Linked DNA regions of Homo sapiens. The protein of the gene in region 1 purifies or fractionates together with the protein of each later gene. This does not show direct contact. Each region holds a gene or a part of one and is shown on either strand. Other genes may lie near its edges.

Evidence for each region. The genes of interacting proteins can lie anywhere in the genome.
Region 2: the proteins of SLC4A1AP (region 1) and PAK4 purify together in Homo sapiens (co-immunoprecipitation; one large-scale study listed by IntAct). This does not show direct contact.
Region 3: the proteins of SLC4A1AP (region 1) and DCLK1 fractionate together in Homo sapiens (co-fractionation; one large-scale study listed by BioGRID). This does not show direct contact.
Region 4: the proteins of SLC4A1AP (region 1) and STK26 fractionate together in Homo sapiens (co-fractionation; one large-scale study listed by BioGRID). This does not show direct contact.

The regions. Positions count from the first base shown.
Region 1 is NC_000002.12:27,673,889-27,677,388, reverse strand, and holds part of SLC4A1AP (kanadaptin), read right to left. Parts: intron 1,858-3,500; coding exon 1,697-1,857; intron 95-1,696; coding exon 25-94; intron 1-24.
Region 2 is NC_000019.10:39,128,786-39,132,285, reverse strand, and holds part of PAK4 (serine/threonine-protein kinase PAK 4), read right to left. Parts: intron 1-3,500. UniProt on the Homo sapiens protein: Serine/threonine-protein kinase that plays a role in a variety of different signaling pathways including cytoskeleton regulation, cell adhesion turnover, cell migration, growth, proliferation or cell survival.
Region 3 is NC_000013.11:35,806,383-35,809,882, forward strand, and holds part of DCLK1 (serine/threonine-protein kinase DCLK1), read right to left. Parts: intron 2,714-3,500; coding exon 2,636-2,713; intron 1,939-2,635; coding exon 1,842-1,938; intron 1-1,841.
Region 4 is NC_000023.11:132,064,802-132,068,301, reverse strand, and holds part of STK26 (serine/threonine-protein kinase 26), read right to left. Parts: intron 88-3,500; coding exon 1-87. UniProt on the Homo sapiens protein: Serine/threonine-protein kinase that acts as a mediator of cell growth. Modulates apoptosis. In association with STK24 negatively regulates Golgi reorientation in polarized cell migration upon RHO activation.

The sequences.
Region 1 (3,500 bases):
ATAAATATTTGATGAAAAACTTACCTTGGCTTGAGGCTTTCAATCTCTCAGAAATTTCAGAAAGTTCCCTTTCAGCATCATTTAATTTTGCAACCTGTAACACCCAAATCAACAGGGTTACAAAGTTTTTCTTCTTTCAAACTGTTTTTCATCCTCCTGTTTTAATTATTCTTACTAGAAGTTTTAAGAAGATTAATTCAAAAGTCCAGTTAAACTGCTACTTATGGAGTTAACACTTTTTTTTTTGTTTTGAGATAGAGCCTCATTCTGTTGCCAGGGTAGAGTGCAGTGGTGCAATCTCGGCTCTCTGCCACCTCCGACTCCCGGGTTCAAGCGATTCTCCTGCCTCAGCCTCCCAAGTAGCTGGGACTACAGGTGTGCACCACCACACCCAGCTACTTTTTGTATTTTTAGTAGAGACAGGGTTTCACCATGTTGGCCAGGATGGTCTCAATCTCCTGACCTCATGATCAGCCTGCCTCAGCCTCTCAAAGTGCTAGGATTACAGGTGTGAGCCACCACACCTGGCCAGAGTTAATAGTTTTTTTTTTTTTTTTTTGAGATGGAGTCTCGCACTGTCACCCAGGCTGCAGTGCAATGGCGTGATCTCGACTCACTGCAACCTCTGCTTCCTGCATTCAAGCAATTCTCCTGTCTCAGCCTCCAGAGTAGCTAGGACTACAGGCACACACCACCACGCCTGTCTAATTTTTGTATTTTTTTTTTTTTAGTAGAGGTGGGGTTTCACCACATTGGTCAGGTGGGTCTCGAACTCCTGACCTCAGGTGATCCACCGGCCTCAGCCTCCCAATGTGCTGGGATTACAGGCATGAGCCACCATGCCCAGCCAGGAGTTAACACTTTTTATGTGTTAAATCCAAATTTAATTTATTTCTGAATTAAAAAACACAGAATTAAACAGAATGAATAACTCGGACTTCATTTTACTCAGAAGAAAGAGCTCAAGGCATTTGTTTTCACATAAATCAAAAGGATAGATGTTGGGTAATGTTTTAAGCTCTGAATCCTACTATAAATTAATACCTGTAACAAATTCCTTGAAGTGCAATTGCTGAATCAATGCATTTTTAATACTGACAGATGTCGTAGGATTGATCACTTAAAAGGTTGTATTGTACATTCCCACCAATTGAGAGTCTACTTCTCCATATTCTGGTCAAGCTCTGCATTATTAATCTTATGTTTTTTTCTAGTCTAATAGGTAGCCTATTACCTGCCTATTATTGTCTGTTACCTACCCATTAACACGTCACCTTGTGATAATTTCCTGAAGAACATACTGTTTCAGACTACATATTACCATACTACATTCTTCAAAATTCCTTTGACTTCTCTTGACTGCCAGAAGGCTAAAGTCAATTTCACCTCAGAACGCCCTAACTTGGAACTTTTTCCTTTCCTTTTGAGAGAGGTAATATCATATCCAAAGAATGTTAATTAATGGATCAATATCCTGAAGGAAAGGATCTAGCAGCAAGCCATATTTTTTTCAAACAACTTGGATAAGACTAGTTGTCTGTTACCATTAAATTAACAGACCACAAAAGTTATACTTCAGTATCAGATTTCAATGCTACTACTTTAAAAATTATCATAAAACATATTTAAATAATACATTATGTTATTAAAAATTAAACTATTAAATACCACAGCTACTTCCATAAATAAAACTTGCCAATGATTCAAAGGTCTCTGGCTTCTCATCAATCTTGCCAGCCTTCTTCATTCTGTTCAGACGCTTCTTCTCAATCAGGCCAGTCCTATCAAGAAATGTGTCATCATCACTATCATAAAAGTCTTCATCTTCCCAGTTCTTGGCTTTCCTTTTCCGAGATACTAGAGGTAGATAAAATGATGAATAAATAAGTTTTTAAAAAAGAAAAGAAAAAGAAAGAAGGCAAGTAGGCAAGGAGCTTAAAATGTCACCATCAACTACTGAAAGAGAGGTTCTACAAGCTGCCAAACTACGTATAAAAACAAAGGGCTAAACCTTGAAGACATTATACTAAGTGAAATAAGCCATATATAAAAGGACACTTACTGCATCATGTGAGATACCTAAAGTAGTCAAATTCATAGAGACAGAAAAGTAGAATGGTGGTTGCCAGAGGCTGGGAAGGAGGGAGAATGAAGTTAGTGTTTAACAGATACCAATTTCAGTATGGAATGATAAAAAAGTTCCAAAATGAACAGTGTTGATGGTTCCATAATATTGTGAATGTACTTAATGCCACTGAGTGATACTCTTAAAATGCTTAAAATGGTACACTTTTCTGTTATGTATATTTTCCCACAATTTCTTATTAAATAATTTTTCATTAAAGCAAATAGTTAATTTATTTAATGAGCAAACGGCTTTTAAAAATCAATGAGGATGGCCAGGCATGGTAATCCCAGCACTTTGGGAGGCTGAAGGGGGATGGATCGCCTGAGGTCAAGACCAGCCTCACCAACATGGTGAAACCCCGTCTCTACTAAAAATACAAAAATTAGATGGGCATAGTGGCGGGTGCCTGTAATCCCAGCTACTCAGGAGGCTAAGGCAGGAGAATTGCTTGAACCTGGGAGATAGAGGTTGCAGTGAGCCGAGAAAGCGCCACTGCACTCCAGCCTGGGTGACAAGAGTGAAACTCTATCTCAAAAAAAAAAAAAAATCAATGAGGAAAAAAGGAAAATGAAAAATGAGAAAAAGGACAATAACCCAAAAGAAAATTTGAAAAAGGATAATGAAAGCAGTTCACAGAAAAATACAATAAATATTTTTAAATATGTTACTTTAAAAAAAAATAAAGTACAAATTTAAAAATTAGATACTTCTCATCTATTAGACTAGAAAAACATAAAAAGATTAATAATTGGTGGGAATGTACATTGATACAACCTTTTTGATGGTCAAGCCTACAATATCTGCCATTAAAAATGCATTGATCCAGCAATTCCACTTCTAGGAATTTATTCTATAAATATCAATGCAATAGTATTTATAACAGTGAATATGTAAAGAGTCCATCAATAAGAAACTATGACAGCTATTACTTTTTTGTTCACCCTACAACATTCTACTCCCTTTGTTCTGATAAAAGTACCTCTTTCCCCTAGAAAATTCCTCCCCCATTTTATCTGGTTTAGGGATAGTCATAGGACCAAAGCCAAATCAGTAAGACTCTTTCCCTCATATTTATATTTAGAGATGGGGCAAAGAGGCTCTCTTTACAATGAGGTTATTAAAGTGAGAGACTGTTAAGTTCAGGGCTGTAAGCAATCAGCTTTTCAGCACAGGGTAAGAATCTGTCTGCAAAGTTTAAAAATGCACTCGTGAGACAGACTCACTCACAGACACACACACACACACACACACACACACACACACACACACAACTTGTATATGTCCTGGTGATGCTGAGTCTACTTTGGTAGTACTAAGTTATGGTTTCAGAACTTGAGGTTCTGGTTCATGCAGTTGTTCCTTCACTCCTGTT
Region 2 (3,500 bases), on another chromosome or scaffold:
CTGTGTGCAGTTTTTCAGTGATTATTTAGGGGAATAGGTAATGCATGCACATGGAGGAAAAACGTGCTTTCTGAAAATTGAAACACGGGAAAAGAGAAACGAGGTTAAAAACACCTCCTCCTCAGGGTCTCTGGGTACAGCCACATGACCATGCTCATAGACTCACAGCACACGCGTGCCTGGCACGTGGAGCTGGGACCCCGGGCGGGGGGCTGGGGTTATTACAGCTCACTACGGGATGAGAACCCAGAGGGGGACAGGGTGCAAGGGACGGAAACCATCGAACGCACCAAGTTCAACATTTACCAAGCACTTACTGAGTGCTGAGCATCGGGCTAAGCACGACGCACACACATGATCTTCCGCCCTCCCACAGCCCTGAGAGGTGGCCACCAATACTCCCTGTAACAGGTGAGGAATCAGAGGCCCAGGGAAGTTCTTTGTCTCTTCCCCAGGGGCTCCCAGCTAGTGAAAAAGGCTAAGGGATGTGTGTGGACTGAGCAGCCCTGGCAGGGAAGTTCCACTGCCCCTCGGGAAGGCAGCAGATGGCCTCCCAGCCTGGGAAGGGTCGGGGCAGGACCGGAGGGTCCCAGGAGAGAGGCTTCAGTGAGCGGTGGCTTCTGTCGCATCCGCCAGCGCTGGCTCCCCTGGGATGGGAGAGTGTTCCCCTTCTCACCCTCCTCGGCCCCTCCAACCTTCCTGTGGGCCAAGGCGTCTGGCAGACAAGAAGCCTTGGCCCCGGATGGGTGACTAGGCGGGAAGGGTCCCACTTCCCTGGCCATGACTTGGAAGGAGGTTGCTTCCTGCTGGCAGCATGTGCGGGGCTGGGCTCGGTGATGGGAGAAACAGCTGCTGGGGACACCCCTGACCGGTGTCTGGCCAGGAAGTCTGGCTCACCACGAGCCAGTGGGACGAGGAGTAGATGAGAAAGGAAAGGGAGGCCCTGAGGGAGGTAGGGACCCAGCGCCCAGAAACTACCCAGGGGGAACAGGTCTCCACGGAACTTCTGTCAACAAAGGAGCCTGGGTAAGAACCAGCTGAACAGGAATCAGGCCTGTCTTGTCCGAGCCAGTTCCAAACCACGGGAGGGCAGCCCCAGTAATCAGTGACACTGAAGCCCCAAGGCCTGGGGTTCAATCCTACCTCTGCCACTGCCTGCTGTGTGACCTTAAGCAAGTCCCGTACCTCTCTGGGCCTCCTTTCTCATCTCTAGAGTGAGGATGATACTAGCACCTACTTCACAGGTTGCTGTGAAGATGAAGTGAGGTAACAGGGGTAAAGCGCTGATGACCTCAGCTGGCACGAGGACGCTCCTCCATCACTGTCCCCTCGTCTTCTCCACCCTCTTCTGCTTGGACTGTCACAGCAGCCTCCCCACAGCCTCCCTGTCGCCACCCCCCGCGATCCGTCCCCCACACAGCAGCCTGAGCAATCTTTATAAGGGGAAAACCAGATGTCACTAAAGCCTCTGATGACTTCCCATTATGCACAGAATGGAATCCACACACCCCACCTGGCTCTGCTAGGCCCTGCTGTATCCAACACCGCCTCCAAGCCTCTGACCCCACCCCCTGCTCAGCCACACTGGCTTCTTTTTTTTGCTTTTTTATTTATTTATTTATTTTATATTTTATGTATTTCTTTAACTGCTCTTTGCAGAGCAAGGCTACCACACAGTCAGGGTGCACAGCATAGCCTACACCGGCCTATCTGATGATCCTCGACCATTCCGAGGTCATTCCGACCCTCAGGGCCTTGGCACTTCCGTACCCATGACCTGTTACATTCTTTCCACCTCCTTCCAGCCTCGCTCATATGTTCTCATCAGTCAGATGTCATCTTATCCAGAAAGCCCTCCTCAACTCCCCACGCTGGGCCACATGCCTCCTCGGGCTTCCTACGGTCCCTGCGCCTCCATCCCAGTCCCAATCCCTCTCTGTGCCCCTCCCCACCATCCAGCCCCAACCCCTCTGCCTGGGTTTCCCCATCCCGCCCTGACCCCTCTGCCTGGGTTTCCCCATCCTTCTCTGACCACTCTGCCTGGGTCCCCCCCAGTCCCACCCTGATCCCTCTGCCTGGGTCCCCGCTCCCATCCCGCCATGACCCATCTGCCTGGGTCCCACCACCCCACCCTGACCCCTCTGCCTGGGTCCCCCCCACATCCCGCCCTGACCCTTCTGCCTGGGTCCCCCCCACATCCCGCCCTGACCCTCGCCTAGGCCTCTCCTTCACAGCCCTGGCCTCTCTGGGCTGTCACCGTCTGGGGACAGCAGGTCTGTCTCCTTCACTGTACTATAATCTACAAGGGTAGAGCTGGGCTGTGTTGGTTACCACTGGGACCAACAGTCAGATACACAGAAAGAATGTTACAAGGCCTCACCCATCCTCCAACTTTCACCTCCGTCCTCCCTGCCTCCCTCCTGAGAGGTTCGAATCAGTATAGTTCTCTTTCCCAGCTGTCACCCCTGGCACCTGCCCCCAAGGGCAGTTGGGGCAAAGCTGCAGTCACCGTCCTGGATGCCCAAGGGGGTAAAGGTGAAAGCCCTTCCATCCTTTCTTCTCCTGTGGTTGTAGGGAGTCAGTGGGGACGAGGTCCCAGCTAAGCCAGTTGTGTGAACCATCTCCCCATCTGTTTCCAAACAGCCTGGTGGGTGGGTGGGTGGGCCCATAAACCTCCCATGTCACGGCCGAGGAAATCGTTTCAGTGAGGGCCACAAAGCTGCCCAAAGCAGGACTTGAAATAAAGGGAGCCCCGGAGCCTGCTGGGGAGCACAGTGGTCCAGCCACTGGGGGCATGACTTGGCAACCGCTAGGAAAGCGGGGAGCTCCGGCTTTTCCACTACTAGGCATATGCCAGAGAGACTCTGGCCATGGTCTACAGGAACACGCGTTCCAGAAGGCCCACTGCTGCACGGTTATAGCTCCAACGGACCACCTCAGTGGCCATCAACAGGTGAACAGGCAACTCCTGTGTGACACGATCACAAAAAGAAACACCATCAGGAAAAACAAATGGCCTGTCCCAGGCCTACACACATCCCCACCAAGAGACATCCAGACTCCAATGCTCAGCTCAAAGCGGGGAGCAGGTGTGCGCGCCTGTAATCCCAGCTACTCCAGAGGCTGAGGTGGGAGGATAGCTTGAGCCCAGGAGTTAAGAGTCCAGTCTAGGCAACATAGCAAGATCCCATCTCAAATATACCTATAATGTTGAACAAAAACAGCAACTTGCAGAAAGGCATGTTTATGGTGACACCATTTATCTGAACTGTGAAACAACAGTCGTCAGCCCCTGCTGGCCATAAGAACTGCCCAGGGAGCTTCCAAAAGCCTGAGGCCAGCCCCAGCCCAGACCAAGTAAGTTGGAAGCAGAATTTCCATGGCGGGCCTGGGCCAAGGCATCTTTTCAAAGCTCTCCAGGGAGTTGCAATGTGCAGCCAGGGGCAAGAGCTGTTGCTCTACTGTTGGTGAATACATTCAAGGGCAGTCAAAGTATGAAA
Region 3 (3,500 bases), on another chromosome or scaffold:
TAGAACTATTGAGAGGTAAACAATTTCATCATCCTGAAATTAATGGAACTTCCTCATGAGCTCAAATGGACTTGGACCAGGAATGCTCTACCTGGGTCTTAACGATGAGTATGCTATACAATTGTCCACTCTGGATTAGAAGTTCCCATGTCACAAAATGGTTAGATATGCATTATCCAGTTCCTTACATACACAGGCTTTATAGTACCACTCGGGAAGGGGGTGATTTAATTTCATTGAGGGAGAGAGTTCACTCAGCCTTCTTCATTCAGTTTCTAACTTGGATCAGAACTCGTGAAAGTATCTGCTGTGTGTGATGCCCTTTGCAGGTGCTATGGAGGTGTAGGAGATGGTCCTATTTGTCAGTAACTGTGAGCCCTCAGATCCTGCAGTGATGGCATGGGGAGCTGGACAGGTTCCTGAAGAGCCCCCGGCCCTGCAGCTGTATCGTCCCATCTCCTTTAGCCTGCGCCTTTCTCTGACACTCCCTTTCTGGCAGCTTCCTGGACAGTTGAAGAAAATGAGAGACTTGCACTCAATATGCATCATTTTCTACACAAAGTGGTCATGTCTGAGGGGTTGGCTTTTAAAGGGAACTCACATTCAGGACATGACAAAAGCAAAGGCATAAACATTGAGCAATCAAAAGATAATTATTTCTCAAGATAATTATTGAGAACATTTTTCTCAAATTTTTAAACATTTAAGTCAGCACTCGGAGACATAAATTTTAAAAAGAGCAATGAAAAGGTTTTCCTTTTTCTCCTCAAGGTCTACAAACATCTCAATGTAAGATTTTTATAGCCTTCTTAGAAGTTGATTTATCATAAATATTATTTAATGTGGTAAAATATACATAAAATTTACCACTTCAACCATTTTCAAGTGCACAGTTCACTGACATTCAGTGCATTCACATTGTTGTGCAACCATCACCTTCATCCATGTTAAGGACTGATCTTTTAGTTTCATGGGATAAAAACAATGAACCTTGTGTTTTCCTCCCCCTCTGCCTCTAAATCCTGGCTATTATTCAAGGTTCAACTTAAATCATAGCTTCCCCATAAAGTCTTTCTTGATGATTTCAACCTACGTTGAGGTTGAGTTTTCTTCCTTCTGATTAATTGATGGATTCATTCATATACTTGTTCATTTATTCAGTATACATTGAGCACCAGTATGCTGGTCATACTTTAGGCAGGGATAGTACAGCAATGGACAAAATAGATAAAAATCCCTGCCTTCGCAGAATTTGCATTCTAGTGGAGAGAGTCTGGAAATGAACTATATAAAGAAGACATGCCTACTTATTTATATCTATCTTTTTTTGGGTAGAGAGATAGGTAGTTAGATAGCACACCAGATGGACACACAGGTGTTAAGTGTTCTGGAGAAAAATAAAACAGACAAGTAGGATACAGCAAGCCAGGTAAGGTTTAAGAGATGCAATTGGAACCAGGATGGTCTGGGAAGGCTTCACTGGGAAATTAAGTCATTAAGTCAAGAGCTGAGAGAGGTGAAACCACAGGCCATATAGAAATCTGAGCTGGGCTCAAGCCTGGCGAGGGTGGGGCACAGCAAGAGGCTATAGCAATGTCACTGGAATGGCACCTGAGAGAGATGAAGGCAGCAGATGGAGACACTTGATAAGTACTTGTTGGGATGTCTGGGAACAGATGACTTGATGACTGTGAAATCTTGGAAAACCTAGCAATTACAACTAAAATGTGTACAGAAATCATACTTATGATGTCATTAGTTTCTTTGCACACAATGATTTGGAAAAATAATTCCGTTAAGACACACAGAATATAGGGAAGAGGAAGGCACTGGACACCTACCTTTGCAGAATCGGAAACATTATCCCAGTATGGAGAAGGAAAGTCCACCTGCCCCATCAAAATCTGATCAAAAAGCACCTCCTGGTCATCACCACTTCTGTTTAGGTGAACGACAACAAGGAAAAACAGCACTAAGATATCAACTCAGTGTACATCTTTTCAGTCTTAGGCACTGGAGCCCTTCCTTTCCCCCCATAAATGTGTAAAAATGTGTATTTTTAATCGATTGAAAAATGTCAATGTGGATCTGTTTTGGTAAATTAAGAAAGAGTTTTTGGGCCGGGTGCGGCGGCTCACACCTGTATTCCCAGCATTTCAGGAGACTGAGGCAGGTAGATCACTTGAAGTCAGGAGTTCAATACCAGCTTGGCCAACATGGTGAAACCCCCATCTCTACTAAAAATACAAAAAGTAACTGGTGTGGCGGCGCACGCCTGTGATCCCAGCTATTCAGGAAGCTGAGGCAGGAGAACTGCTTGAACTTGGGAGGCAGAGGTTGCAGTGAGCTGAGACTGTGCCACTGCACTCCAGACTGAGCAAAAGAGAGACTCTGTCTCAAAACCAGAAAGAAAAAAAAAAAAAGAAAGAATGAGTTTTTAATGATATGGGGAAGAAATATGGAAGGCATATAAATTAGCATGCATGACATAACAGGGAAAAAATAACAGGGATTGCAAGTAAAGTTCTTGTGCTCTTTTCCTGCTGCAGGCTCCTTTGTGCAAGAAGGGCTAATGGATCACTCAGAGAGTAGAGAAATGCTTTGTCGGCGCTGAATAAAAGATTGTTGCCCATACCCACGGAATGGAGGGAAACCACACAGCAGGATATAAGTGATTACACCTGCTGCCCAGATGTCCACCTTGAGGCCGTATCTGGAAAAATAAGGGATGTTAGAGTTAGGAGGGTCAGGCTCGGACAAATTATGCAGCTTGGTAAAATCAATGACTTTCCTCCTCCAAGCCAAAAATAAAACCAAACAAAATAACAATCCCAACAACAAACGCTAAACTAAAACCCACCACCTAAACAGAGTTCAAAGAAAAAGTTTAAAAAATAATAATTTTAAAAAAGACCAAGGTGCAGGAATAAAAATCAAAGGAATGCATTGCTGGACTTATTTGTAAATATCAGTAAATGAAGGTTTTCAGCAAAAAGGTTTATTATAGTAATAACAATTCTGAGATAAGGATGGACCCTTGAGATAAACTCCCTCACTTTAGGAATAATAATTATTTCTAGAACGTTTTCCAATTTATAGAGCACTGACATACATGATCGTACTTTGTTTTCCTAGCAACTCTGTAGGTTGGACAAGACAAGTATTGCTTATTGTACAGAAGAGAGAAAACAGGTTCAGATGGGTGAGTAATTTTGCTTAAGATCACACAGTTAGTGTCAGAGCTGGTCCCCAATATGGTCTTCAAGACCCACCACTTCCTCCCAGCAGCAAGCAGAGCATGTCCCAGTAGAAAGTGTGTCTGTGCCCCAGGCAGCCCCACCTGAGGGAGGTCAGACAAGGCTATGGATGTGGGCTCCCACCTCATTCAAATTTGCCAAGTAGCAAAGTCCTCATTCCCTCACATCTCGCCTCAGGAATTTCCCTATTGGGATTCCCTTCTCATCTATTTGGTTTTTCTGCCCTTGTGGTCTATGGTACAA
Region 4 (3,500 bases), on another chromosome or scaffold:
CTTTTCTGAATGCAGATAGTCCAGACCTTTTAAAATTTCCTTTAGCATGGTAGCAATCTGGAACTCATCAAATGGACCAGCTCGAAGCTTAAGGGGAAAAACACACACACACATACACATATGTGTAAAAGTTTGGAAACATAAAATTCAAAATTGGTACCTTTGAAATGAAGAAATCACTTAGACACATGATGCCGTTCTGTTTATCAAACCAATATCTAAACAAGGAAGGAAAAATGTAAAATGTGAAGGAAGAAAGCAAAAGAGTTCAGTCAAAGGGCTGAACAGGTTTTTTAATGATTCAATTTAATGAAAGATAATACGAGCCCTTTTACCTATATACTAGGCTTCAAATTCTGAGGTTCCTGAATATTTACATCAAAGATGAAACAAATATGCTTACGTAATGACAGAACCAACTATCTGTTCTTTAGATGGAAAAAAAGAGAAATCAGCTACTTAAATTCAGGCAATTGCTGTGAAAAAGTTACTACATATTGACACGAAACTGATTTTTAGGTCAGAGAATCCATAAGATTTCCACAGCAACTATTTGATCATATCAGTCAGCATTTATGTATTTTAATAATATTGCAAAGAATAGCCTTTTTGAGACTCAAATTGTAAATTTAGCCAAGAATATAATAATTAAACTATTCAGACTATGATGGTAAAAAAAAATTAAATCATGGAGGGATAATGTTTTTCAAATAAATGTAACACATATCCCTTTATTTCCCCATCCCTGTACCAAAGCCAATAGTTCCAACTGGAATACAAGGAAAGCAATGATTAGGTTTCAGGAGAACTTGTAATGGAATATCTGAAAATCCCTCTTTAAAATAAATGGTTATTTTAAAATTCTGGTACCTCATAAAGCACAAACAGTGGACTGTACAATATTATTACAGGAAAGGGTGGGAATCTAAAGTCAGAGCAGAGGTAGAGTTCTGTTTGCTTCTGGAAGGAGGGAAGAGGTGGTGAAAATCAAACATTGCCCACTCTGCCTCACACTGGGAGGGATCCACAGCTCTTTGGCACCTTGTGTATTTCATCTTTCATGAATGCCATATTTATGCTGAATAAAGGGCACTTTCATGTTGAAATTTAACAGCTTAAAATAGAACTCATACTTTGGTCTCACCATCTAATATTAACTGTGGTCTGGGTATATAGTATACTCCAGGGATATCTGTAATTCAATAGGTCCCTTTCCTAGGTAACATTATCTACTTACTTTCAAATCTATCAACTTCCACCCCAAAGTTTCTATTCAAACAGTAGTGATTAAAATAGTTTCTAAAGTCTTCTAGAAAGGTTGAAAATGGCATACTATTTTGTTGATGGCTGGCAATGAACTTCTGAGGTACTACAAAATAACTAAAGGACAAATGTCACACTACTTAAGATCAGTAATTAGTATCATCTGATCACAGGACATTGGCAAGACCAGGGGAGGTATATCCTTGGTTATTTCAGTGATTGGGCAAGATTAATGTACGACCTACTAGCTATCATTCTGAAGGACATGTAAAAGTAACATAAATAAGCCAGTATATTACCTAATACAGAAGTTTTTAAAAATATTTAAGTAAAAACAACAAAAAGGGGATCCCAAAGATTCATGAGCTTATCTGCTATATTTTAGGTTCATGTTAAAATTCAATAAAAGTGAAATCTCAATTAACTGGGTGCTAGAGGAGGATGGGAAGAAAGACTCTGTGGCAGGGAGACTTCTCCATTTGAACTTTTCTCCGATAACTGAAGAACTTGCCATGTCTCTAACAGATAATATCTCTGTCCCAGGGCAGTGTACTTGCCTTGTGTAATTTGCCTCTGTTGTCAAGTAAGAATATGCAAGAGAGGGACCTTGACTCTTTCGAAGACTGTACATTTGTGAGCTCATGGATCTTTGTCACAATTTAACTTCCAGCCAGTCCCTAATGCAGTCTGCTATTTTATGCCCTCTCTTATGGTTAGCATATTGTTTCTTTTTTCTTGGGGCTCATGTTTTATTCTAGTCATCTTATTATATGTGTTTTTGTTGCAAGCCACCACGATTCTTTTTGGAAAGAAGTGGAGCATAATAAACTCAATAAAATGATGTGCAATATACTCAAAGTCTGCTCACATACAATAAATTGTTTTTCAAGAATGGGAGTGACTCAAGGTAGACACTGTATAATGTTAACATAAATGACAAGTTGTAATCTTATGTTATTCCATTAGTTAGGTACCAGGCACCAGTTTAATGTGAGAAACACTCTCTGCTAAACATCCCTCTTATTTCCTCTTGTTCTTAGTAGCAGAGCCTTCCTCTACACCTAATCCTGTCTTAGATTCCCCCAAATGATAGCATTTATTTGTACAGGAATATACATGAAAAAGGAATAGCACATTTTCTCATTATCTGCTCTCCCTGTAAAGTCTAGTTAAATGAGTTTTATAATTAAATCACAATATTATTGAATTTTAGAGCTAAGAACACAAAATTAGAGATTACTGATTCAATTTCTTCATTTAACATGTGAATAAATTAAGACACAAGGAGGCTAAAGGGCCGCCCAATATTTGCCAGGCAGTCAGTGTTAGCACTGGGTTTATGACCTAGGCCTTTTGATTCTTAACCAATACAGTACTAACAACATTTTTCATTCATTGAAACTGTTATTAATGGCTATTTGTTTTATTAAGTAGAGTTCAGAATAGCAGGATGAGATTAAGATCTCACAATCATTTAACTTGGAGATTTCATAAAACTGACCAAACTACTAATAGGGGACACAGATTTGGGTCATTGGTTGGGGTTAGGCCAGTGTTCACTGTTTAACATTGCTATCAGTGATCCTGTTGAACAGAGTGGCCTAGCTTTGCCAGTGCTTCCAAAATGGGGAAGAGATATGGTGAGCACCCTGAGGAACCAGATAAGACAACTGATAAATTTGGAAAGGGCTCTTAATATTCAAAAAATGGAAGGAGGATCATGAAACAATTGAGAGGCTTCTTGTAGAGCTAATGAAAAAACTATTGAATAATATGACTCTGTGACAAGACAAATAGAAATGAGATCATTTAACTTCAAGAGGAGAATGAAGCCTGACTCCATATGCATGAAGGATTATTACACAAAGAAACATCAGTGGTGTTCTCTCACTAGAGACGAGAGAAAAAAAATGAACTCAGGCTTTAGGATATAAGAATTAGATTAGACACAAGGAAAGATTACCAAATTCAGCAACTGATTAAACTGACATGAATTCCTAGTAGTAGATGAGGCTCTCCATCAAGTTTAATTACCATTTCTTTAAAATGGTTTAAATATGGTTCTGCCTAAAGGAAAGAAAATCTCTTATAGTCATTTCTGTTCATAAAATTATTTGAAGCTTTGAGTTACTGGCAGTCAAGGTTAAAGCCTTTTAAAAATATTTAATCACTTTCAGTTAGGAAAACTCATCTCCACCTAAAAAAATAAGAATTAAAATATTACTTGATTATTTTAA